Linked DNA regions of Homo sapiens: regions 1, 2, 3, 5 and 6 are each linked to region 4. The links come from fine-mapping of genetic effects on gene expression. A gene starts in region 4. Each other region holds a variant in brackets. All regions are shown on one strand. Distances are from middle to middle.

Region 1 (4,092 bases), 73 kb before region 4:
AAAAGAATCAAAACAACTGGAAAACATCTGACCCCAGATCTCAAACTTCTAACATTTTTAGTACTGTTGCTGTGACTGGGTTGGAGAATCCAGAGTGGGGCCTCCTCCACCTCTTCTTTCTGTCATCTTGCATGGAAAGTTTAAAACAAGAGCCGAGTACTACTCAACCATACAAAAAAAATGAGATTCTGTCATTTGTAACAACATGGATGGAACTGGAGGTCGTTATGTTATGTGAAATAAGCCAGACAGAGAAAGACAAACATCACACGTTCTCACTTATTTGTGGGATCTAGAAATCAAAGCAATTGAATTCATGGAGATAGAGAATAGAGGAGTGGTTACCAGAGCCTGGGAAAGGTAGTGGGGAGACATGCAGGAAGGGGAGATGGTTAATGGGTACAAAATAAAATAGAAAGAAAGAATAAGATCTAGCAATTGATAGCACAACAGGGGCATCATAGTAACAATTTAATTGGACATTGTAAAATAACTAAAATAGTATAAGTAGATTGTTTGTAACACAAAGGATAAATGCTCAAGGGGATGGATACCCCATTTTCCATGCTGTAATTATGCATTGCATGCCTGTATCAAAACATTTCATGTACCCCATAAATATATATGCCTACTATGTACCCACAAAAATTAAAAATAAAAATAAAAATAATTTAAGTAAATACATAAATAAAGAGCCTGAAAATCCTAACTCCTTGGAAGCCAAGTGGTCACTTACTTCACAATGAATGGAGAGCACAGCTCCTCTAGGATCCTCTTCTCTGAGTAGACATGCTCCTGCTGCTTGGTGTCAACTATGTGCTTCTTCCTTATACACTTCATAGCAAAAGCAACATTCTCATTTTTTACTTTAACCTATGTAAGAAATGGAAAGATACCTCAAAATTAACTTATATCTATATAAAACACACTAATCAATGAGAGTTAAAACTGTTTCATGTTTAATTAGTATGGAAGCCCTTAGCCACTTATCCCTTTGAGAACTTTCATTCAAGTGTACACACTTCCCTTTCATCACTATTTCTAGAATAGTTCATCTATCTGGGATGTGGCTCTAAAATTTTTGTATTAAAGCAAAATAAAATTCTGTTAGACTTAATATTTAGATAGCTATTCTATTTTTAATTGGGTGACATTAAAAACTTTGACTAGAATTGCCTTTTTTTATTATTCACTTTGCTTTCAAAGCAAGATTTATTATTATTATTATTATTATTTTAAGACAGGGTCTCACTCTGTCGCCCAGAATGCAGTGGTGCAATCAGGGCTCATTGCAGCCTTGACCTCCTGGGCTCAAGCTATCCTCCCATCTCAGCTTCCTGAGTAGCTGGGACTACAGGTATAAACCACCACACCCAGCTAATTTTTGTATTTTTTATAAAGGTGGGGCCTCACTATGTTGCTCAGGCTAATTTCAAACTCCTGAGCCCAAGCAATCCTTCCACCTTGGCTTCCCAAAGTGCTGGGATTATAAGCATGAGCCACCGCACCCAGCCTAAGCTCTATATCTGTACCATCCAATATGGTAACTGCAAATCACATGAGGTTATGTAAATTTAAATTAAATAAAATTAAAAATTCAGTTCCTGAGTTATACTAGCCACTTTTCAAAGGCTCAACAGTCATATCTAGTTAGTGGCTACCCTATTAAATAGCACAGATATAAGACATTTCCCTCAGCACAGTTCTATTAAACAGTACTACTCTAGATGCACGATCAAGTATTTCCTAAAAAGGAAATAAACATTTTAAAATAATTTTTTGATAGATTTAAAACTCCATAAGCAGACTATGCTAGATAAGTAACTACATTGTGCAGAAATGGCTGCACTCCATATTTTGCTCATGTTTGCCATTAGTGCTGCCCATGACTTTTAAATCAATGGTGGATTTACTGCTTCAATTATTATTAGAAAACAGATCTCAGCTTTGTTAATTGAATCCTTTTGCCACAAACTTTGACGAAAAATACCACTGCAGACAGGTATTATCTTTATCTCTCCATAAGGTATAAGAGACATTACACACATTATTTATCCTAAGGAACATCTGTCCCTGCCCCCATCAGAGATGAAGCAAGGACTGGGTCTGAAGTGTACTGTCCAGACTCCCCTGACAGCATTTCAAATCTGCTCATGCCCAAAGCCAGCCAGCAGACCAACAGGTCAGCAGAGTTCCCAGAAGATAAGGTATGGTGAATCCTTAAAAATCTGATGGGCAAAGAAGGACTCGGTAATTGCCAAGGCCTCAGAGCCATCTGTACCCAGTAAGGCCACAGATCTCTATTCCACATTTTCCT[T/C]AGAATACTTGTTTGACAGTACCACTTTTGCTACTCCTTGGAAGCTGATAGCTCAGAAAGAGGGTGATGTGGAAGGCACAACTAAAATCAGGCTGTAAGTTCCCAGATATCCTGATCAACACTACAGAAGGCTTCTCTTCAAATATTCCCTTTCATTCATCTTCTTTTCTTTTCTCACAATACGAAATTTTGAGCAACCCAAAAACAAAATAATGAAGGTGAAATACAGACATGGTACTGGAGTTGTTTAAAGAACACAACTATAACATTGAATATTTCACCTCTATGGCATTTTCACTTGACACATTCTTCTTTTCTTTAGTGTATAGAGACTAAATGTGTCATGAATGTATATAGACACGCATTTGCTGTTAGAAAATACATTATTTTATGTTTCCTTTTGGACGTGCTTACTTAGTATATTGATAATCATCGAGAAGAAAATTCACAAAAGACGTGATGTAAGCTTGAACTAGCAGTTGATTATTACAAGTTACTTACTAGCACAGACCTGCTACTATACAATATACAGAGTGAAAAGTTTACTTTCTCAATTTCAGTTCAAAGCAACATTTAAGATAGCAGTAACAATTCATATATTCCTCCAAGATATGCTGGAATATAAAACAAAAAAAAAGTCAAAAGGCTTCTCTCAGATGCTTGAAACGTAAACCCCTTACAAGCTCAACTCTTCCGAACCCACCAACGCCCAGTGTTGCAATAATCTCAAGGTTCTGGAATGGGGATGATGAGGAAAATCTGGCCACCTTCTCCTTCAGCTGAATCATTTCCAGAGAGAGTGCTTTGGACAGCTTCCAGTTAGACATGGACCGCCTGTACAAGAGAAGTGAAACTTTACACACACACACCCATAATTAAGAAGGTGTCATGCCATACATAAATTTCACTCCTACGACAGTCTAATTTCTGCTGTAACTATGATTTATAGTTGCCACAAAGGCTATCCCAACTTTTATGGATCAGATTCAGTCCCACGCAGCGAGAAAACAATAGAATATACAAACATAAAACTCACACATATGCATATACCAGGAAATAGACGAATGCCAAGTTGAATCAATGAGAGGTAAAATGGGTATAGTTTGTGGTACTTAAAATGTACCTCTTAGGTTTCTTCTCAGTGTGGAAATTTTTTTTAACTAAAAATATATATACCTCAAAAAAGCTGTTAAAAAACAACCATGAAAAGCAGTCAATGAATGGGAATGAAACAAGGAAGCCACTTCCTTTGCTGCATGTACAGGAGAATGCCACATTGACAATCTTTCCCACGTTTTGCTAGTTTTATCAGATCTTGAAGCTTTGCATGGCTGAACCAAAATAACTGCTTTGTGAAATATGAAAAGTACATTTCTTACTTTATGTCTAAGTAATATCCATTTTTTTCTCTTTTAATTAAGGTTTACCGGTCTGGGTTACATATTCATAAATTATTACCACAAAAGGCCTTCAGCGTAAAAATTGCAAAAACATATGAAGTACTGATTGAATATTCTAATTTAATTCAAATTTAAGTTTTCTAAGAATTTTGACTATATGGCTTTGATAGCACTATCTAGTGAACATGTGCTTAAGCATTCACTCTAAAAAAATGTTTCAGCAAACAACTTTCAAATAATTTTCATTTAACAAAAGTAGAGTTTTCTAGTACACACAAAAAATTAATCACTATTACTACATTTAGAGACCTACCCAACCCCCTCCTCCACATATCCCTGGGCAATAGATTCCTTACATTTTGAAAAAATTCTAAC
Region 2 (4,092 bases), 61 kb before region 4:
TATTATCAAATAACTACCCACTGTAAGAGGAAAATTCACCATCTAAACTCCACCTCCTAAAGTTAAATTTTAAATGTGAATCCAGTGATTCCTTCTGAGAGATCCACAAAGCAAATAATAATGGTCTTGTGGGAACTTTTTCTATTTTAAAAAGCCTAATATAGTTGACAAATTAATCAAAAATAAGGTTGAGTATCAGTAGTTCTGAGTCTGGTATCAATAGATTGACTGGCCGAATCCTGTGCACCTCCTAAAACTGAATGCAAAATGTTGATTGAAGAAGGGTCTACAACTTTCATGGGCATCTCAAAGCAATCTGTTGCCCAGAAAGGCTTAAGAACCCCCCACCCAGCAGGGCCAAACAGAAAAAGCCCTGTTTGTGGCTAGAGTTATTCCAATTCAACATGGTAACAAGTGCTGATTCAGGCTGAATAGAAATTCTGTTTGGCATTTATGTATGTCACAATGAATTAAAATTTTAAAAATAAAAAATGCAATTTTTTATCACCAAGAATTATTTCAAAGTATGGGGTCTAGGTTGGGAAAAAATGACAAGAAGTAGTTCCTAGTGTTGAAGAGTTTCAGAGGTTTGAAACTATTTTGTTCATGTTTTTCCTTCACTTGGGGCCAAATTCAAAGTTCAACCACAATCCAGTTTACAAATGGCAGTGCCTGACTCCCTGATGGTAAACCCTTCCATATAACATATGTAAAAATCTGACAGTTTATACACACAGGTGCTCAAGAATTGGCCCTTCCCTTCAATATTTCACAAATGCTTTTCATCTCTGAGTAATACTGTTGAGTCAACATTGGAACAACTGGCAACATGTTATCCATTCAATATCTAGGTAAAGAAAAAGACTTATTGTACATGTTAGTATAAATTTTGCATCAGCATCTAAATTCACTTGAGCTGTTTTGTATCAATTGAAATTCTGAGCCATATTGGTTCTATAAGCCTGATACCTAATCATGACTGTCTTCAATTGCTGAATTCATTCTCCACCTGCTACTTGTCATATCTATTGGATAAGAAAATATTCTAGTACTGATCTTGGAATCTGGGGATGATTGAGAATCACATAGTCATAGCCAGAAGGGACCTTATAAATAATCCAGCCATCTCATATACAATTAAGCTAGGTCTCTCCCCAAAAAATCAAGTGACCTACATAACATCACTAAGAAGTTATTATTTCTTAGGGGGTCCTGTGGCCTCCACTCCAAAGCCAGTGTTCAAACAGAATTGCATGGGACTCTACTGGTAGAAGCTCCTTTATCTGTCCAAAGTGGAGGACCTATGTTGCAATGCAAAGCATAGTTGAGTTTATGGCAAACTGATTTAAAATAATCTTTTTTATTTAGTAAGTTTTAATTAATAGTTACCTTTCCTTTTGCCAAAATGAAAAAGGTACTTCCTTCCTCGCCCTCTCTAATGATGTAATCTCCTTTGTCATAGTATTCCTGTTGGGATGAGAGAGAAAGAAAATGTAAGAGCGGGTGGAGCCAAGATGGCCTAATAGGAACAGCTCCAGTATACAGCTCCCAGCGTGAGCGGCGCAGAAGACGGGTGATTTCTGTATTTCCATCTGAGGTACCGGGTTCATCTCACTAGGGAGTGCCAGACAGTGGGCACAGGTCAGTGGGTGCGC[G/T]CACCGTGCGCGAGCCGAAGCAGGGCGAGGCATTGCCTCACTCAGCAAGCACAAGGGGTCAGGGAGTTCCCTTTCCTAGTCAAAGAAAGGGGTGATGGACAGCACCTGGAAAATCGGGTCACTCTCACCCGAATATCGCGCTTTTGGGACGGCCTTAAAAAAACGGCGCACCACGAGATTATATCCCCGCACCTGGCTCGGAGGGTCCTACGCCCACGGAGTCTTGCTGATTGCTAGCACAGCAGTCTGAGATCAAACTGCAAGGCAGCAGCGAGGCTCGGGGAGGGGCGCCCGCCATTGCCCAGGCTTGCTTAGGTAAACAAAGCAGCCAGGAAGCTCAAACTGGGTGGAGCCCGCCACAGCTCAAGGAGGCCTGCCTGCCTCTGTAGGCTCCACCTCTGGGGGCAGGGCACAGACAAACAAAAAGACAGCAGTAACCTCTGCAGATTTAAATGTCCCTGTCTGACAGCTTTGAAGAGAGCAGTGGTTCTCCCAGCACGCAGCTGGAGATCTGAGAACGGGCAGACTGCCTCCTCAAGTGGGTCCCTGACCCTGACCCCCGAGCAGCCTAACTGGGAGGCACCCCCCAGCAGGGGCACACTGACACCTCACACGGCAGGGTACTCCAACAGACCTGCAGCTGAGGGTCCTGTCTGTTAGAAGGAAAACTAACAAACAGAAAGGACATCCACAGCAAAAACCCATCTGTACATCACCATCATCAAAGACCAAAAGTACATAAAACCACAAAGATGGGGAAAAAACAGAGCAGAAAAACTAGAAACTCTAAAAAGCAGAGCGCCTCTCCTCCTCCAAAGGAACGCAGTTCCTCACTAGCAACAGAACAAAGCTGGACGGAGAATGACTTTGACGAGCTGCGAGAAGAAGGCTTCAGACGATCAAATTACTCTGAGCTACGGGAGGACATTTAAACCAAAGGCAAAGAAGTTGAAAACTTTGAAAAAAATTTAGAAGAATGTATAGGCCGGGCGCGGTGGCTCACGCCTGTAATCCCAGCACTTTGGGAGGCCGAGGCGGGCAGATCACGAGGTCAGGAGATCGAGACCATCCCGGCTAACACGGTGAAACCCCGTCTCTACTAAAAATACAAAAAAAAAATTAGCCGGGCGTAGTGGCGGGCGCCTGTAGTCCCAGCTACTTGGGAGGCTGAGGCAGGAGAATGGCGTGAACCCGGGAGGCGGAGCTTGCAGTGAGCCGAGATCCCGCCACTGCACTCCAGCCTGGGCGACAGAGCGAGACTCCGTCTCAAAAAAAAAAAAAAGAAGAATGTATAACTAGGATAACCAATACAGAAAAGTGCTTAAAGGAGCTGATGGAGCTGAAAACCAAGGCTCGAGAACTACGTGAAGAATGCAGAAGCCTCAGGAGCCGATGCGATCAGCTGGAAGAAAGGGTATCAGCAATGGAAGATGAAATGAATGAAATGAAGCGAGAAGGGAAGTTTAGAGAAAAAAGATAAAAAGAAACGAGCAAAGCCTCCAAGAAATATGGGACTATGTGAAAAGACCAAATCTACGTCTGATTGGTGTACCTGAAAGTGATGGGGAGAACGGAACCAAGTTGGAAAACACTCTGCAGGATATTATCCAGGAGAACTTCCCCAATCTAGCAAGGCAGGCCAACATTCAGATTCAGGAAATACAGAGAACGCCACAAAGATACTCCTCGAGAAGAGCAACACCAAGACACATAATTGTCAGATTCACCAAAGTTGAAATGAAGGAAAAAATGTTAAGGGCAGCCAGAGAGAAAGGTCGGGTTACCCTCAAAGGGAAGCCCATCAGACTAACAGCAGATCTCTCGGCAGAAACTCTACAAGCCAGAAGAGAGTGGGGGCCAATATTCAACATTCTTAAAGAAAAGAATTTTCAACCCAGAATTTCATATCCAGCCAAACTAAGCTTCATAAGTGAAGGAGAAATAAAATCCTTTACAGACAAGCAAATGCTGAGAGATTTCATCACCACCAGGCCTGCCCTAAAAGAGCTCCTGAAGGAAGCACTAAACATGGAAAGGAACAACCGGTACCAGCCACTGCAAAATCATGCCAAAATGTAAAGACCATCGAGACTAGGAAGAAACTGTATCAACTAACGAGCAAAATAACCAGCTAACATCATAATGACAGGATCAAATTCACACATAACAATGTTAACTTTAAACGTAAATGGACTAAATGCTCCAATTAAAAGACACAGACTGGCAAATTGGATAAAGAGTCAAGACCCATTAGTGTGCTGTATTCAGGAAACCCATCTCACAGGCAGAGACACACATAGGCTCAAAATAAAAGGATGGAGGAAGATCTACCAAGCAAATGGAAAACAAAAAAAGGCAGGGGTTGCAATCCTAGTCTCTGATAAAACAGACTTTAAACCGACAAAGATCAAAAGAGACAAAGAAGGCCATTATTTAA
Region 3 (4,092 bases), 44 kb before region 4:
GAGCAACCCAATTAATAATTTAGGTTTTTTGCACATTTTTCTATGCTGTGCACTATCACTCTATCAATACAAGGGCAAAAACTAGCAGGAGAAATAAATGAGTATACAAGGATAATAGAAATTAAATACAGTTTTTGGTATGTACTGGCATTTACTGCAAGCAATGTTCCTTTGGTTTAGTCATGTGGAAAATGCTTAAATGGAAGTAGCTATAGTTGAATAATTATTCTGATAAAACCAATATATTCACAATATGGCGACTCCACTGTCTTCACTGTCTCCCAATGTATTATTCTTACCTTCTGAGGAAGTTTCTGTATTGTTCATCTCTAGCTTGGGCTGTCCTCCTCATTATATTCTGGAATACCTCTCGATCTAGTGCCCATGTTTTAACATTGGTAATAGCTTTAGAAAATTCAAGAAAACAATAAAACACTTAGTACAACATTGTGAAAACATTCCAAAATATAAATCGATGGATTTGTTATATGTTCTTATAAAATGGTACTTCTTGGAAAATGTATTATTTAAACATACAAATGAAGGAGACAGAAAAATAAATAGTGAGCAATTTTATAAATCATTTTGGCTTTGAAATACACTATTATTTGGAAATGACTAGCAAAAAATTTCCTTTCTAATTATGTTACAGTTAGGATGATATTCAAATTAGTTTGCAATTCCCAATTATGCACTAGATCATCAGGATGTGCTCTAGATTTCTGCTGTAATACAAGAGAAAGGCAGTCAATTTGTAGCTAATCTGGAGAGTGAAGTCACAAACAGATAATTGAAAGTTAAAGCTATCTGTGTGTATGTGTGTGTTTTTATGTGTCTTTTTATGTTGTTCTGACACTGTTGCTAAAGAAGCTACATATTATTTAAGAATCTCTACAGTTACTTTTGTGTAAAATGCCTACAAATTATTTGAAAGAGACTATGAAAGAAAGTTTTTGAGATAATTTTTTTTTACAGTAAAGACTTAAGGGCAAGTATAAAATTTAAAAAGAAAGTGGGCCAGAAGTGGTGGCTCTAAAAAATCTAGATGAAATTGTGGTTGTACAATTTTTTAAAAACGAGTAACAAAGCCTCTAAAATTGATCAAAACCCAAAGCTCTGGATTACCAAACTTTACATTGGAATCATCTTGATATTCTTGTTAGAAATACAAGATCCCTGGGCTCCATTGCCAGAGACTCTGATTCAGGTTGGGAGTAGAGACCCAAAATCTGCATTTTTATCAAATACCTCAGCAAGGCTAACACATATAAACTAGTCCCAAACACTGAAAAACATCATATCTATGTAATTCAGAAGGAAACCCAAGATTGCCATAAAGTCAATAAAACAAATCTAAAGAAAAGCAAGTAAAGTAATCCCAAAAGTCATTCATGAATACTCTAATTACTCTAATTCATATTCCTTTTGATATAGATACATTTTCATTGGTTTAATTAATTTCTCTGGCTTATAATATGGTCAGAACCTCGTTGAGACTAGCTAGAAAGCAAACATTCTAGATGAGCCAAAGGCATGTGTCTATGTAGTAAAAAGTAAAGTGGCAATTAAAGCAAATATGGAATCAGTCAGCTTAAAGCCATTGTTTTTGGCAGAACAAACCTTTTTATTTTTATTTTTATTTTTAATTTAATTTAATTTTAATTTCCAGGATACACATGCAAGACATGCAGGTTTGTTTCATAGATAAACGTGTGCTGTGGTGCTTTGCTGCAACTATCAACTTAACACCTAGGTATTTAGCCCCGCATACATCAGCTATTTATCCTGATGCTCTCCCTCCCCCACCCCTCCCCATTGGGCTCCAGTGTGTGTTGTTCCCCTCCCTGTGTCCATGTGTTCTCATTGTCCAACGCCCACTTATAAGTAAGAACATGCAGTGTTTGCTTTTCTGTTCCTGTGTTAGTTTGCTGAGGATAATGGCTTCCAGCTCCATCTATGTCCCTGCAAAGGACATAATCTTGTTCCTTTTTATGGCTGTGTAGCATTCCATAATGTATACATACCACATTTTCTTTACCCAGTCTATCACTGATGGTCATTTGGATTGATTCCATGTCTTTACCGTTGTGAATAGTTAAAAGCCATTTTACATTTTATACACAGGTATCCAGAAAAGTTCTTTTTAGCTTAAATTATATAGGTAAGTGCTTCAGTATAAATCCCTTAATAGGCATAGCATTTCTATTATAAGAACATATAGGGTAAAATGGGAAACAGACTGTGGATCAGGGTGCAAATGTGACTGGACTAGATTATCTTTAACATGCCACAACAATTCAAAGATGGAGCATTTCCTCTTTTATTACCTTTCACAGAGGCAGTCCTTGTACAATTGTATAAAATGGCAAGCTCCCCAAATGTGGTCCACATAGGGATGGAGGACAGCAATTTCTCCCCTTGGAACACCTCTAGTCGACCCTCTATCAAG[C/T]AGAATTTTAAAAAACACACACACAAATAATCGAAATCCGTGTAGATACTATAAATTAGTAAAATAAAACAATCATAAAGCACACAAAGTATACAGGTAAGATATTTTATGATTCTCATTATAATACACCAGTTAAAAGTGTAGACTGAAATCACCTCTGCCACTTACTATTAGCTGGGTTGCCTTGAGAAACTTACGCTATCTGTCTGAAGTTCCTCATCAACGATGAGGATAATAATAATTATTATTATTATTTTACAGTGGCAAGAATGAAATAAGTTAATCTAGGTAAGGAATTTAGAACAATGGCTAGTGCATAGTAAATGCTGTGTGTTAGCTATTATTAATATTATTATTTTTACAATGTTATTTTCCTGAAGCAGTGGATGGCAAGTGTTTTGTTTAAAATTCATTATAACCTATGAGAAATGTAATACATGAAACTATTTCTCTTTTATGAGGAGCTCAACAATCACTGTATGTCATAAAAACACAGAGAAATTGTTCACAATGATGGAATGACAACCCGTCATAACCAGTAAGTAGATCAGCCCTGGAATCAGACTGCCTGGCTGTGTCCTGATTCAACTCATTTTTGCCTATGTGACCTTGGGCAAGTTACTTCATGGTGCCTCAATTGTTATCTAACCTCTAATTTATTTAAATGTAATACATATTAGTTACAAATGAAAATCACTAAGAAGAGTGTTTGGCACTTATTACCTGGGCAAAGACTGGAGGAAGGGAGAGGCAGAAGTTTGCATCCCCTTCACTATTTTTCTTTTTTTGCCTTGGCAGCTTTACTCTTCTTTTGCTTTGAACAAATACAAACAAAACCTTAACCAACTAAAAGCATAAGCAAAAAAGATCTAAGTTCTTAGAGGAAAAAAAAGTGATGGGGTAATATCTCCTTTCCTTAAAGAATTAGTCTTTCCTTTTCCTAATTCACTGCTAAGTAGCTCTGTATCATCTCTGTCCATCCCTTCATTCAGCAAAACTGATCCGAGTACCTATGTTGTGCTGGGAACTGTTCCAAGTGCCAGAGCCATAGAGAGGACAAAAGAGAAGATATCCTTAGCCTGATAGAATTTATACTAGCAAGGAAAAAAAACACTCAGTTCTGGCTCCAAATCCTAGAGGTTAGACATGCAATTTAAAATTTCTCATTAGCTAAATTCTATTCTATCAAAGCCACTTAGTGGTAGTGTCCAGTTGATATCATGAATCTTAATGCATTTCAAGTTTTTATCTTGAAATTGGTTATGGCTCATTGTGCCTGAGCAATGCTGAAGAATTATATGGAATATCAAAAGTTAAAGCTAAATATGCTTTTACTATTTGCTATTCATGCTATGTTTCATAAAGGGAATATTTTTAATTATCAAATTAATTTGCTCAACCAGATAATTAAACCAGGCAATTCAGTCCTTGGGTGACACTACAATTAATTCAAATAAGAAACCATCCAATTTTCATTTCCATGTGTGCCATAACTCTGATCTCAATAGCTGTTTTGATACTGACTTCTGTTCAACCTCTTCTCTCCCTGAGCCTTTCATCAGAACTACTTGGGAAGGAACGAGATAGGCTTACATCAGTTTCTCATCCTCTCCTAGGAGGTTTCATAAATATTTGTTGACTTA
Region 4 (4,092 bases):
GGCTAGACACTGTGGCACTGACAGAAGTCAGGAGAATGAGCATGCTTTGAAAAGACAGTAATGAGTCTGGATTTACATATATTGAGTTTGAGATGCTTGTGGGTCATCATGATGCAAATGTCTAGCAGGTAGAAGCAAAAAAGAAAACTCAAGGGAAGAGATTGCTCCATAGAAGACTTGAAGTACCATTTGTAGATGAGATCACTAAGGGAGGTAAGAAAGGAATGTCTCTATTGTTACCTATGAACATATAGGTAATATCTGTGGATATTATTTGTGGGAGAAGAGGAGGAGAAGCAAACCACAAAGGAGAAGGAACACGTGTACCAATAAGAGATTTAGGAGAAGCATCAGAAAGGCCATGCAGATAAGATCCTTAAGAGGTGAGCAGGCTGTACCTCACATCCCACAGGCCTGTCACAGCAAATGAGATCAGAGAGAAAAGTGCTGAATCTGATTTGTCAAAGAGTGGGGATAGACACTCAACTACAAGGGACCATGGAAAGAGCTGACACTAAGAGTAGAGCCTGCAAGACGATATCATGATTCATGTGAGGGATTTTTAAAATAATGAAAATTTGAAAATGTCTGTAGCTCCAGGATAATGAAGCACAGGAGATATGAAAAACGAAAACATGGGAGAAGAAGAGATAATTCATAGGAAAAATAGCCTAGAGGAAGCAAGACAATAAGGGATCACAGGACTTGGGCAACAGCCAGGCAACATATGCCTTCACTGTGAGGTGAATTCTCATTAGCCTCACTTGTAATGACTTCATAGAACTGGAGTTAAGGATTTCACGTAAAAGAGAAAGATCCCTGGGCATCATCTTTTCAGGTCGTTTATTCTTAGTCATACAGCGTTCCAACGGAGAGGATGCACTCTAATTCTCCATAGAGAATTCTCTACCATATTAGCTCATACCCTCCTGTGCAAAACTAAACAGGAGTACTGAAAACAGCTAGTGTATGTTATGTGGGATGATCGCCTTCTTCATGAGTTAAATAGAAACTTGCAAAGAAAAGAGACAATTTCTAAGAAACTCTAAATATGGGGGTGTGGTGGGGTGGGGGCAGGTGTATGTTGCTCTCTTCCTTAAAAAAAAAAAAAAAAAGAAGGAGAAGAAGAAGAAGGAAAAAGCCCCTGGGAACTTGGGGAACAAGATGAAGATCAGGAAATCAAGGCATTTGTCCCAGCGTCACCCTTCCTACCTACTAATTCTGCATGCGTTGCTTTTATTGTCAGCTCTGGCCTCAGCTGCTTCGTAGTTGCACCGTAGTTCTTCTCAGAACTGAACCTATTTCTTTTTTTCTCATCCCCAAAGTGGCTGGTTTCTGGGCTTTGTTTGCTCTTGTTTCTTCATCACCGAGAAATACAGAAATATGAAAGCGCCTCACGGTGCCCAGAGTGACAAAAGGACACCCACACAAGTTTACCAGGACTCCTAAAAGTCCTTGCCTGAGGACTGTCCCCTAGCAACTACCCAGAGCTCGACGAAGCAAAGCCGGGAGCGCAAGCCCTGACAGCACCGCCAAGCCCCTAGCTCGGAGCAACAGCCTCCACCGCTTCTCCTCGCTAAACCTAGAGAACCCTGAGGACTCCCCACTGGGGCTGAGCCCCTCCCGCCCTCAACAGAACCTCTAAACACAAGTAGCCTTTCCCTGCCTCCAGGAGCTCACGAAACGCTGCCACACCGAGCGAATGCAACGCGTACACACGTCCACACTCGAACAGCACAAGCAAGAGACCGGCTGGGTGTGGAATAGAGGCGCACATCGCGCAACGCATTCACAGCATGCACACGCGCGCACCCCGACCCCGTCCCTCCCCGCGCGCCCTCACACCCCGGCGCCCAAGACCCCCGGCCCACGAACCTCACCAGACAGCCGGGTAACTTTCCAGGTGCGCAGCTTGTCACCTCGGCGCGGCCGCCCCTGCGTCTCAGCGTCCTCTCCCACGCCGCCCTCCCCAGCCGCCTGCGGCGCCGGAGCCCAGCGCAGGTCAGCTCAGCCAGCCCCGCCGTGCACACGGTGCGCAGCGTGGGCCCGGGGCTGCCGGCTCAGTCGCTCCGGCTACGTGTGAGCCGGGGGCGCGGGTTAGCGCGATGCGGGCAGGAGCTGCGGCGGCGTCGGTGCTGCCGCCTGGCTCCGCGGCGGGGGCCGGTGCAGAGGAGACACGCAGGGAGGGAGGGAAGAGAGGAGGGAAGGAGGAGGGAGGGGGTCAGCCGGGGCTACTGCCTGGATAGTTGGGCGCCGGCTTCCCTAAAGGTGGGGTCACCCGCGCCCGCACGCACACTAGCCCGAACCTTTACTCCCGACACAGCCGCAGTCTGCACTTTATACCCCATACCCTCCATAGTGAGGCAACTTAAGTAGGGCGATAACATCGTGGTTGTAAGCATTTTTGTTCATGTTATTATTTCTATTTCAAGTGTGTGGGACGAGGGGAGAGGAAAGTTCAGGGAGGTGTTCATTTTTTCCTTCCCCTCCCTTTCCTCCATCCTTCCAGTCTGTTTTCACTGCAGGCTCTCTCCACTTCGCCTTCCCTCCCAGAGCTCAAACAGGCGCACGTACCCTGGACATGCCCTCCTCTGTCACACCAATGCCTTTCTACGAAGACATGTGACCCCGAAGCAGCTCGTCGACGCGCCCCTCCCGGACTCTGGGGCCATAACTTACATCTAGTTTGCCAGTTCACGTGATGCTGGGGGCAGGGGTTGAATCGAGTTTCGAGGGACAGAGATTATACCTTCCGAATCTGCAGGTCTTTGGGAAGGGAGCTTTCTTGATCACCCAAGAAGATAATGCTCTCTCGTCACCTTTTGAGTACATTTTTTTTTCCTGAAGGGTGCAATATGGTTTCCTAAATATATATGTACACCCCACCGCATTATTTGCTGTGCTCTGGAGTTGTGAGATCTCCATGTGGCTTTTTCCCTTTCCTTCTGCCCCCAGAGGAATTTCACCAGCAAATTCACGGAGGACAAGGGCAGTTTCTGTGTTGAGAGATGGAAAGTATAGTGAGGGTCTATTCCTCACTGTGCATCTAGAGAATGTTACAACCAACTCTCTTGGGTTTTTAAACCACATGGTGGCAGTGGGGCTCATGTAACATTTGTATACACTGTTACATACATAAACTTATATTAAAAATGAGGCCCATGTAAAATATGTTGAATGAGACCATTAAGTTTCAGAGGAGGAGGAATATAGTCCTGTTTGTTTTTGTGCTAACTGGAGGAAAATCGCGAAAGTACACAAAGTACCTTTTCATGAAGCTATCCCAGAGTCTGTACATTTTATAAAGACCTCAAAAAAAAAAAAATTAGAGGAGAAAGGAGTGAGGAAGAATTCCACAAGAAAAGAGAAAATAAGTAATTGTATGTCACTGTAATAATGGACTTTTAAGTTGATGGGCTGAATTTTTATTAGCGATTTAATGACAAAAAGGAGAAAAACAGATTTTCAAAGTCTTCACTTTAAAAAAAAATTTCAGATTCAGGGGTACAAGTGCAGTCGCATTACACGGACATAACACATAGTGGTGAGGTCTGGGCTTTTAGCGCACCTATTACCCTAATAATGTGCACTGTACCTAATAAGTTGTAATTCCTACCTCACCCACCTCCCACCCTCCCACCTATTGGAGTCCCCAGTGTCTGTTATTCCATTCTGGATACTCATGCCTGCCCATTGTTTAGCTGCCACTTATAAGAGATTCTGCAGTTTTTGACTTTGTTTCTGAGTAATTTCACTTAGGATAATGGCCTCTAGTTCCATCCATGTTGCTGCAAAAGATATGATTTCATTGTTTTTGTGGCTGGGTAGTATTCCATTGTGTGTGTGTGTGTGTGTGTGTGTGTGTGTGTGTGTGTGTAGTACCCCTGAATCAAAAAAAAATTTTCCCAGTTTTTCAGGTGATAGGTACACAGTGTATGTGTGTGTATACCACCATAGTGTGTGTGTATATATTTTGTATATATATATATATATATATATGTGTATATATATAATATAAAACCACATTTATAAATCCAATCACCCCTTAATGGACACGTAGGTTGACTCCATGATTTTGCTATTGTGAATAAT
Region 5 (4,092 bases), 42 kb after region 4:
TGTCTTGTATGTTAAAGGTTCTTTAAAATGTTTGTTGAATGTATTGACTATAAAGGAAAAAGTGGACATAATGGTTTTTCTGATAATTTTTTATAAAAATATTGTATGATTTAAAAGTATTAAAGTTGTAGAAAAGAGAGTTTGTTGCCATGAGGTATTTATCTATTGTACTACAGATTCTTTACATACTCAGTAGTGATGGCTAGTCATTCTTTAAGTTGAAAAAAATTAATATAAAAGTGACTCACATACTCACTGACAAAAACAATGATCATACCTGCTGATTTTTATGAATTCTTCAAATTTAAGAGTCTTTAGAAACCCAATTAGGGATAACTCAGATGTATGATTGAGCTGAATCAGTGACACACATACAAAAGAAAAAAAAAGCTATATCCCTCCCATCCTTTGTTGATCACAAGTTAGTAAAACATGAACCATGGTGAATATCTTGTAGTGACTTAGAAATGTATAGTTGAAAGCACTCAATAAATACTTAACAGATGAACAAATATGCTTAACACAAGCAATAAAACAGGTCACAGAATAGTACTTTTTTTAAATAAAAAAGAAGTATATAGTTATATAGTAAATAAAAGAAAAAAATTAAACAAGAATCTTACAAATGAATGACTCTGAGTGGTGACATTTTTGGATGTTTCTATTAACTTCATCATAATTTGTTAGCTTTTTCCATGTTTTCTACAGTAAATATATATAATATTTGAAACCAGGAAAAAACAATATTTTTAATCCTCTAGCCACATCCACATCTTCCAGCTCTGCCTACACCAAAAATCAGCAACAGTAATCAAACAAAAAAATTAGGTTTGGATACGGGGAAATAAAAATGAAAATAACAGTTATTTTACTCATTGAGATGCCATTTACAATTCAATCCATTACAGAGTAATCAGCTTCTGAAAGCTTGAGCTTATGAGTCAGGCAAACCCAAGCACTAAGCTGTTATGATAAAGATGTAACCAAATACAAACCATGTGGAGCCAAGATGATTGTACAACTTGATTCTTTCCTTAGCACTCCCATAGAGCCCATGACCTGATGACAAAGGGCACTGATGATCAGAAATAAGTAATTCAGAGAATCTGTGCTGACCCAATTGCTCAGATTTCTCAAGGAAATATCCTAACTTTTCTCCTTTAGAAATTCACCTTTGGCAATAAAATAATTGGAAAAAATAAACCTCACTTCAACCTCACCACAGGGAGAGAGGGATGGTCTGTAAGGCACAACATTTTTAGGTAAGCTTAGTATTAGCCTCTGTCTAAAATTATTTGAAATGCTTAGCAATATTTATTTTTAAAATATATTTGTCTTTATATCTGTATATTATACATATAATAGCCCTGAGAAATTGGTAGGGCAGATATTATTATCCCTAATTTACTAAGATAGAATCTGAAGTCACCTTCCGTCCCCTTGAAGCCTAGCTGCATTTTGAGCACTGTCCTTTTGACCTTGTATTCCAAGTGCATTCCAGCAGGTGTGGGCTTAAACACCCGAGGGATGGTCTGTGCACTTTGCAAGCTGAGAGGAAATAATATTGCTCTACCACTTCAGAAAACTGTTGAGTGCCCTGATCTCCTGAGAAATTCTCCCAAGTGTTTAGCAGAAATGCCCCACCCGTGAGTGCAGAATGGAGCCATGTGCCCCCGACTCACACTGTGGCCCTGCTTGCTCTTGCACCACCCATCCATCTGGGTGGTCTTCAGGGGAAGCCCTCAGAGGAAGACTGATTGAAACCAGAGTTGCTGTGCCACCCACACCAATTCTAGTTTCTGAACGCAGCCAGCTGAAGCATATTCGCTATCCTAAAATAATAAAAACAAATTAATGGAATTGACTCAAGGGAAATCAAGTTCCACTTATAGGCCTAGTGGCAGAAACAGCTGTTAAAATTCATTAAATTGGAAGCTCCTGTAGTAGCTTCTTAAGAATATTTTTCAAAGTCTTTGGACCACTACTATAAAAGACCAAGTTAAACATTATTCATCAGGAAGTGTTTTTGTGGAAGGACATGGAATGCATTTGGAAATCTGCATAGCATGTAAGATTGTGGCTGGATCATTCGCAAAGTTTGTATTTCATTAAGCTTTGATAGATAAGCCTGTTGTAATTTGAAAAATTAAGATCAATCTCCGCATTAAAAATCCCCAAAGCATTTCCACTGAGTATGAATTTCCTTATCACAGAACTTTCTATAAGATATTTACAGATTTTGACAAGTCTGGCTATGAATTCTACAATAAAACTCTTAGTTAATAATGGCAACGATTTAAAATCTAAAATTTTTTTTCAAGAGTTGTTTATATACCTTTTCTTCTTTCAAAGGTATTTCTATGCTGTTAAAATAATTGTACTTTTTGTCTACATGAACTATCTTAA[G/T]AATTTCTATGTCAATAATAAAGGAATGTGTCTGATAACCAAAAAAAAAAAAAAAAAGTAGAGTTTGGATTGGATGACATCCAAGGACTTCTTTGACTTTTGATTCTAGAAACTAGAATTCCAAGGGTGCTATTCACATCGGTAGCAGCCAGCTCTCTAGATGCAGAGTTAAGGCCAACCAAATTCATTCTGCAAGAATTGAGGATGCCAACACTGACAATTAAGTTCCTAAATGTATCCATTGAGGTGGTTTGATTACAAATGTCAAAACTCAAATCTGACTAACTACAGGTAAAAGGGAAATAATTATAAGGTCCTGGTGGGGGCTCCCAGACCCAAAGGGAAATCTACAAAAGCAGAAACCTAAAAGGACAGGAATCAGGGCATTTGGAGGATCTAGGTAGCTAGTCTTCAGGATATTGCAAGAGGACCCACTGGCTCCAACCATTTTTCTTCTGCTCTTTAACCACTGGGCTCAAGAGCCTGGGGGGATAGTCCATTGTTTATATAGTGGATTGATATTCAATATCCATTCTGCCCTCATCTAGAGTCCCTTCAGTCATCGTTAAGGCCAGAAAGCTAAACATTATATTCCATAGTCTAGTTTGCAGACAGTGTTCCAGAAGGTACTTAATAATATTCAGCTAGTCACATGTGTTCATGTGAGATCAGAAAGGCAGAAGTGAGGTGGAGGCCACATTTGTGCTGCTTCTGCAATTTCTGGTGCAGAACATAAATGGCAAGGTGGTTGATTTTTCTGCAACAGCTTTAGCTGAAATCCCAGTAGCTAGCCACTTGTTAGATATTGAGAGGATGGCATGGGTCATCCATTTTGTTGGTGCAGTCCCAGCAGGCATGTCATGGCTCTGGGGCCAACAATTGTGGCCATGGTTTCTTATCTGTCAGTCACAGCTAACATGCATATTTCTGGTACCAATGATTACAACGACAATCAGAAGTTGGCATCGTGGTTCCCACTTCCGTGGCTTCCTGATGTTAACAGTTCTCTTTGCAGACTGTTACTTGTTATATAACAATTATTTTTTTCTGCAAATAATTACTGGATACTCCATTCTCTGTAATAAATCCCCTTCTGCTTAAACAGGTAAATAGTTCCATTTTAGTCCAATTGGCCATCATGGCTCATATGCCTACCCCTTGGTGGGGCTGATTGGCAGCCCCACCAAGATTGGCAACCCCATCAAGTACACACAACGGAAGAGGGAAAATTTCCCAGAAGAAAATAAGATGCTCTTATCAAAATAAAAGGGAAAATTGACTGTGAGTGGCAGAAAATAACAACCAACCATCCTGTAAATAAATACAAAGATAATTAATCAACATCATTTTCAGGGTGTCTTGTAGGCCCATTACACAAAGCAAAGTTTTCTGAAGTCCTGAAATATTACAATACATTATGAAAGCTTAACTACCCTAAGGCAAGGAGTCAGGGAATGCTTCAGAAAAAGACATCTGATCTCAGTCTGAAGGATCAAAGAAATATGAAGGTCTTTCTAGGTAGTGGAAAATTCATGTCTTAATTGGCACTCTGTGTCTGTATGTGTGTGTGCACACATGCTCACGCACATGTGTGTTGAGTATCTAAATAAAGATTGAAGAGTGGATTAATTAGTAAAGAGGAAAGTTTCATTTTGAGCATTTCTCTCACTAGCAGTTGTACATTTC
Region 6 (4,092 bases), 55 kb before region 4:
GGTAGGAAGAATCAATATCGTGAAAATGGCCATACTGCCCAAGGTAATTTGCAGATTCAATGCCATCCCCATCAAGCTACCAATGACTTTCTTCACAGATTTGGAAAAAACTACTTTAAACTTCATATGGAACCAAAAAAGAGCCCGCATCACCAAGTCAATCCTGAGCCAAAAGAACAAAGCTGGAGGCATCACACTACCTGACTTCAAACTATACTACAAGGCTATAGTAACCAAAACAGCATGGTGCTGGTACCAAAACAGAGATATAGATCAATGGAACAGAATAGAGCCCTCAGAAATAACGTCACATATCTACAACCATCTGATCTTTGAGAAACCTGAGAAAAACAAGCAATGGGGAAAGGATTCCCTATTTACTAAATGGTGCTGGGAAAACTGGCTAGCCATATGTAGAAAGCTGAAACTGGATCCCTTCCTTAATCCCTTCCTTACACCTTATACAAAAATCAATTCAAGATGGATTAAAGACTTAAACGTTAGACCTAAAACCATAAAAACCCTAGAAGAAAACCTAGGCATTACCATTCGGGACATAGGCATGGGCAAGGACTTCATGTCTAAAACACCAAAAGCAATGGCAACAAAAGCCAAAATTGACAAATGGGATCTAATTCAACTAAAGAGCTTCTGCATAGCAAAAGAAACTACCATCAGGGTGAACAGGCAACCTACAAAATGGGAGAAAATTTTTGCAACCTACTCATCTGACACAGGGCTAATTTCCAGAATCTACAATGAACTCAAACAAATTTACAAGAAAAAAAAACAACCCCATCAAAAAGTGGGCAACGGATATGAACAGACACTTCTCAAAAGAAGACATTTATGCAGCCAAAAGACACATGAAAAAATGCTCATCATCACTGGCCATCAGAGAAATGCAAATCAAAACCACAATGAGATACCATTTCACACCAGTTAGAATGGCAATCATTAAAAAGTCAAGAAACAACAGGTGCTGGAGAGGATGTGGAGAAATAGGAACACTTTTACACTGTTGGTGGGACTGTAAACTAGTTCAACCATTGTGGAAGTCAGTGTGGCGATTCCTCAGGGATCTAGAACTAGAAATACCATTTGACCCAGCCATCCTATTACTGTGTATATACCCAAAGGACTATAAATCATGCTGCTATAAAGACACATGCACACGTATGTTTATTGTGGCACTATTCACAATAGCAAAGACTTAGAACCAACCCAAATGTCCAACAATGATAGACTGGATTAAGAAAATGTGGCACATATACACCATGGAATACTATGCAGCCATAAAAAATGATGAGTTCATGTCCTTTGTAGGGACATGGATGAAATTGGAAATCATCATTCTCAGTAAACTATTGCAAGAACAAAAAACTAAACACCGCATATTCTCACTCATAGATGGGAATTGAACAATGAGAACACATGGACACAGGAAGGGGAACATCACACTCTGGGGACCATTGTGGGGTGGGGGGAGGGGGGAGGGAGAGCATTGGGAGATATACCTAATGCTAGATGACGAATTAGTGGGTGCAGCGCACCAGCATGGCACATGTATACATATGTAACTGACCTGCACATTGTGCACATGTACCCTAAAACTTAAAGTATAATAATAATAAAAAATAAATAAATAAATAAAAAGATAATGTAAGATCAAGTGGAGACACATAATTGAAGACATAAAGAAAGCAGAACTCCTTTTGTCTTTGAAATGAGTATT[A/C]CACACCTGTTTTAGCATTTGTTTGGTTGTTGTTTTTGCCTATTGAAACTGTAAGCTTTTCTTACATTGCAGTCATAAACTGTAGAAAAGTAAGGAGACTTTTGCTTTATTATCTGCACTTATGTTTTCTTCTTTCACAGAGTAAATTCACCTGGAATACTGAATTTCAGGCATGGGGTCCAAAGATATAAAGAGAAATGAGAGCCAGGCAACAATCACCAGCTTTCACCTGCATAATCTAAATATAAACTGTTTGGTGATCAGCAACATTCTAAAAATTGAGTCTGGGCTCTAGAAAAAGAACAAGTGATTATATAATATCCCCAATGGATATTAGGAAAATTACCCTTAATTTCTAATTCCTTGAAAAGCAACCTCTTGGAAGATTCTACATTCACAGTAGGTAGTGCTGTCATAATGCAATATCCAAAGATTTGTCATCATAAAACATTGACATTGGAAATTTTTATGTGTAAATTCTATTATTTAATTTAGATCTATCCTCATGAAATCTTAAATTATTGCATATTTCTTTTTATTTATTAACATCTGTTTCTCTTGTAAATATTTATGTGATTAGAAAATTCTTGAGGAGGGAAAAGTAATCTATCCACCTGTCAGACCAAAAGAGCGACTAAATATCTCAGAAAACAAAGGATAGATTAAACTGTCCACCTCTACTTTGCTTTAATTTGATCTTGTCTTAAAGTCACAGAACTAAGATGGATCTCTTAATTATTTATACAAACAAAAGTGGCTTCTTTAATTTTTAAAAAGGCATAACTAACCACATAATTGCTCTCTCTTGTTTTTCTTTTAGACTTGAAAATAAATTCCAAACTAAACTACTTTTTTATCTGTTGTTTTTCAATACTTTCTTGATCATTTATTCTTAAAACCTATTTACTTTTCTGGAATAAATGTTACTCCTAATACTAACAAACATGCGTTTTATTTTCATAACACTATGTACATTTTATAAGATATGTCAATATCTCATGGAAGGAAGCATAATATTTTTGGAGTTAAAAAGTTCTTTGAAGCCAGACAGGTCTATATTCAAATCCCAGTTTACAAGAAATTTACTTTCCTCAACCCATAAAATTAAAGTAACAACCCATATCTTCAAAGATTTAGGAAAGCGCATTAGTTCTCTATTGCTGCTGTAACAACCAAAAACTTGGTGGCTTAGAGCCACATCCTTTTATTATTTACAGTTTCCGTGAGTCAGAAAGCCTAGGCACAGTGTTGCTCAATTAGGTTTCTCAGTTAGGGTCTCTCAGGATGGAGCTCAAGGTATCAATAGGGCTTATGTCATTCTGGAAGCTCAGGGGAAAATTCATTTTCAAGGTCATTCAGGTTGCTGGAAGGATTCACCTGCAGGATAAGATCCCATTTCCTTACTGACTGACAGTGGGAACTGCTCATGAGGTCTCTCCCATCCCTGCAGAGAGCCCCCTCCATCTCAGAACCAGTGATGGCATGTTCATTTCTTACCCTCAGAGTCTCTCTGGATTTCACTTCTGCTGCATCTCTCTGACCCCAACCAGAAATAATTCTATGCTCATGCAACTATATTCAATAGTTCATTCACCTAGCCAATTAATGATAATCTATTTTAAAGTCCCAAACTTTAAGCATACCATTAAAGTCCCTTTTGCCATGTAATATAACATATTCATACATTCCAGGGATTAGAATCTGGATATCTGGAAGGGGGGGTGGGGCAGGGGACCATTCTGCCTACCACAATAAGCCAATGAAAGGCAATGTTGCCTGAAATAGTAGGAGCATCTAAAATATAGTAAATGCACAATTAATTGTTGCCATGCTAAGAAGGAGGATGATAATGATTTGCTCAGCTGTTTCCTACATCTTCTGGACCTCTGTTTCATTTTCTGTAAAATTAAGATTATATTTACTACTACACCTAATGTTGTTTGAGGACTAGTTAAGACGGTGTATCTAAAGTACCTGATGGAATGTTTAGTGCACACCAGGTACCCGGTGACTGTTAATCTTACGAAAGAGGCTGTAAGCTGGTCACGAAAGTCTTCCAGAGGAATATATGATTGTCCAGGTAAGTTACACTTGCCAGCCTTCCTGCTGTTAGCTATGGCCATGTGATGAACTTTTATCTAAAATAATCTGAGTGGAAGTGATCTGTGACAATTCCACACCAAGCCCATGCATGCTTTCATGCATGTGTCTTTATACTTTTTCCCCAATTATAATGGCATGGCCCACACAAACCTGGAAAACCACATGTTGAAAATGGCAGAGTAGACATCAGCTTGGATTCCCAAATGACTGTGTGGAGCCAATTGGGACTATCTTTCCTGGACAGTTATGTTAAC

Direction of the effects. Alleles are on the strand shown, and positions count from the first base shown. SD is a standard deviation of normalised expression in the study named. Not every link is listed here.
As copies of T replace C in region 3, the expression in thyroid of the gene that starts at base 2,167 in region 4 goes down (small effect, 0.35 SD a copy in GTEx).

What was found. PIP is the estimated chance that this variant, and not a neighbour inherited with it, causes the effect.
Region 1: its variant is fine-mapped to the expression of PRKG2 in esophagus mucosa (GTEx, PIP 0.99).
Region 2: its variant is fine-mapped to the expression of PRKG2 in whole blood (TOPMed, PIP 0.98).
Region 3: its variant is fine-mapped to the expression of PRKG2 in thyroid (GTEx, PIP 0.94).
Region 5: its variant is fine-mapped to the expression of PRKG2 in lung (TOPMed, PIP above 0.99).
Region 6: its variant is fine-mapped to the expression of PRKG2 in whole blood (INTERVAL, PIP above 0.99).

What each region holds. Positions count from the first base shown.
Region 1 is chr4:81,139,797-81,143,888 of GRCh38, forward strand. PRKG2 (protein kinase cGMP-dependent 2) reads right to left here. Exons shown (of 19, transcript NM_006259.3): 11 at 2,998-3,151; 12 at 737-873. Among named protein-coding and RNA genes, the nearest start is that of PRKG2-AS1, 23 kb to the right of the region's middle. The variant T/C (reference allele first, on the strand shown) is at 2,318.
Region 2 is chr4:81,152,255-81,156,346 of GRCh38, forward strand. PRKG2 (protein kinase cGMP-dependent 2) reads right to left here. Exons shown (of 19, transcript NM_006259.3): 7 at 1,390-1,467. Among named protein-coding and RNA genes, the nearest start is that of PRKG2-AS1, 11 kb to the right of the region's middle. RefSeq lists enhancers at 1,210-1,724, 1,725-2,238. The variant G/T (reference allele first, on the strand shown) is at 1,656.
Region 3 is chr4:81,169,364-81,173,455 of GRCh38, forward strand. It overlaps PRKG2 (protein kinase cGMP-dependent 2), which reads right to left. Exons shown (of 19, transcript NM_006259.3): 4 at 2,328-2,441; 5 at 300-405. All of the region lies in intron 1 of PRKG2-AS1 (PRKG2 antisense RNA 1), which reads left to right. Among named protein-coding and RNA genes, the nearest start is that of PRKG2-AS1, 6.5 kb to the left of the region's middle. The variant C/T (reference allele first, on the strand shown) is at 2,450.
Region 4 is chr4:81,213,056-81,217,147 of GRCh38, forward strand. It overlaps PRKG2 (protein kinase cGMP-dependent 2), which reads right to left and starts at 2,167. Exons shown (of 19, transcript NM_006259.3): 1 at 1,881-2,167. It overlaps LOC124900726 (a long non-coding RNA gene), which reads left to right and starts at 1,831. Exons shown (of 2, transcript XR_007058162.1): 1 at 1,831-1,903; 2 at 2,510-3,169. RefSeq lists enhancers at 1,199-1,699, 1,700-2,200.
Region 5 is chr4:81,254,720-81,258,811 of GRCh38, forward strand. No RefSeq gene overlaps it. Among named protein-coding and RNA genes, the nearest start is that of PRKG2, 42 kb to the left of the region's middle. The variant G/T (reference allele first, on the strand shown) is at 2,407.
Region 6 is chr4:81,158,484-81,162,575 of GRCh38, forward strand. All of the region lies in intron 6 of PRKG2 (protein kinase cGMP-dependent 2), which reads right to left. Among named protein-coding and RNA genes, the nearest start is that of PRKG2-AS1, 4.4 kb to the right of the region's middle. The variant A/C (reference allele first, on the strand shown) is at 1,736.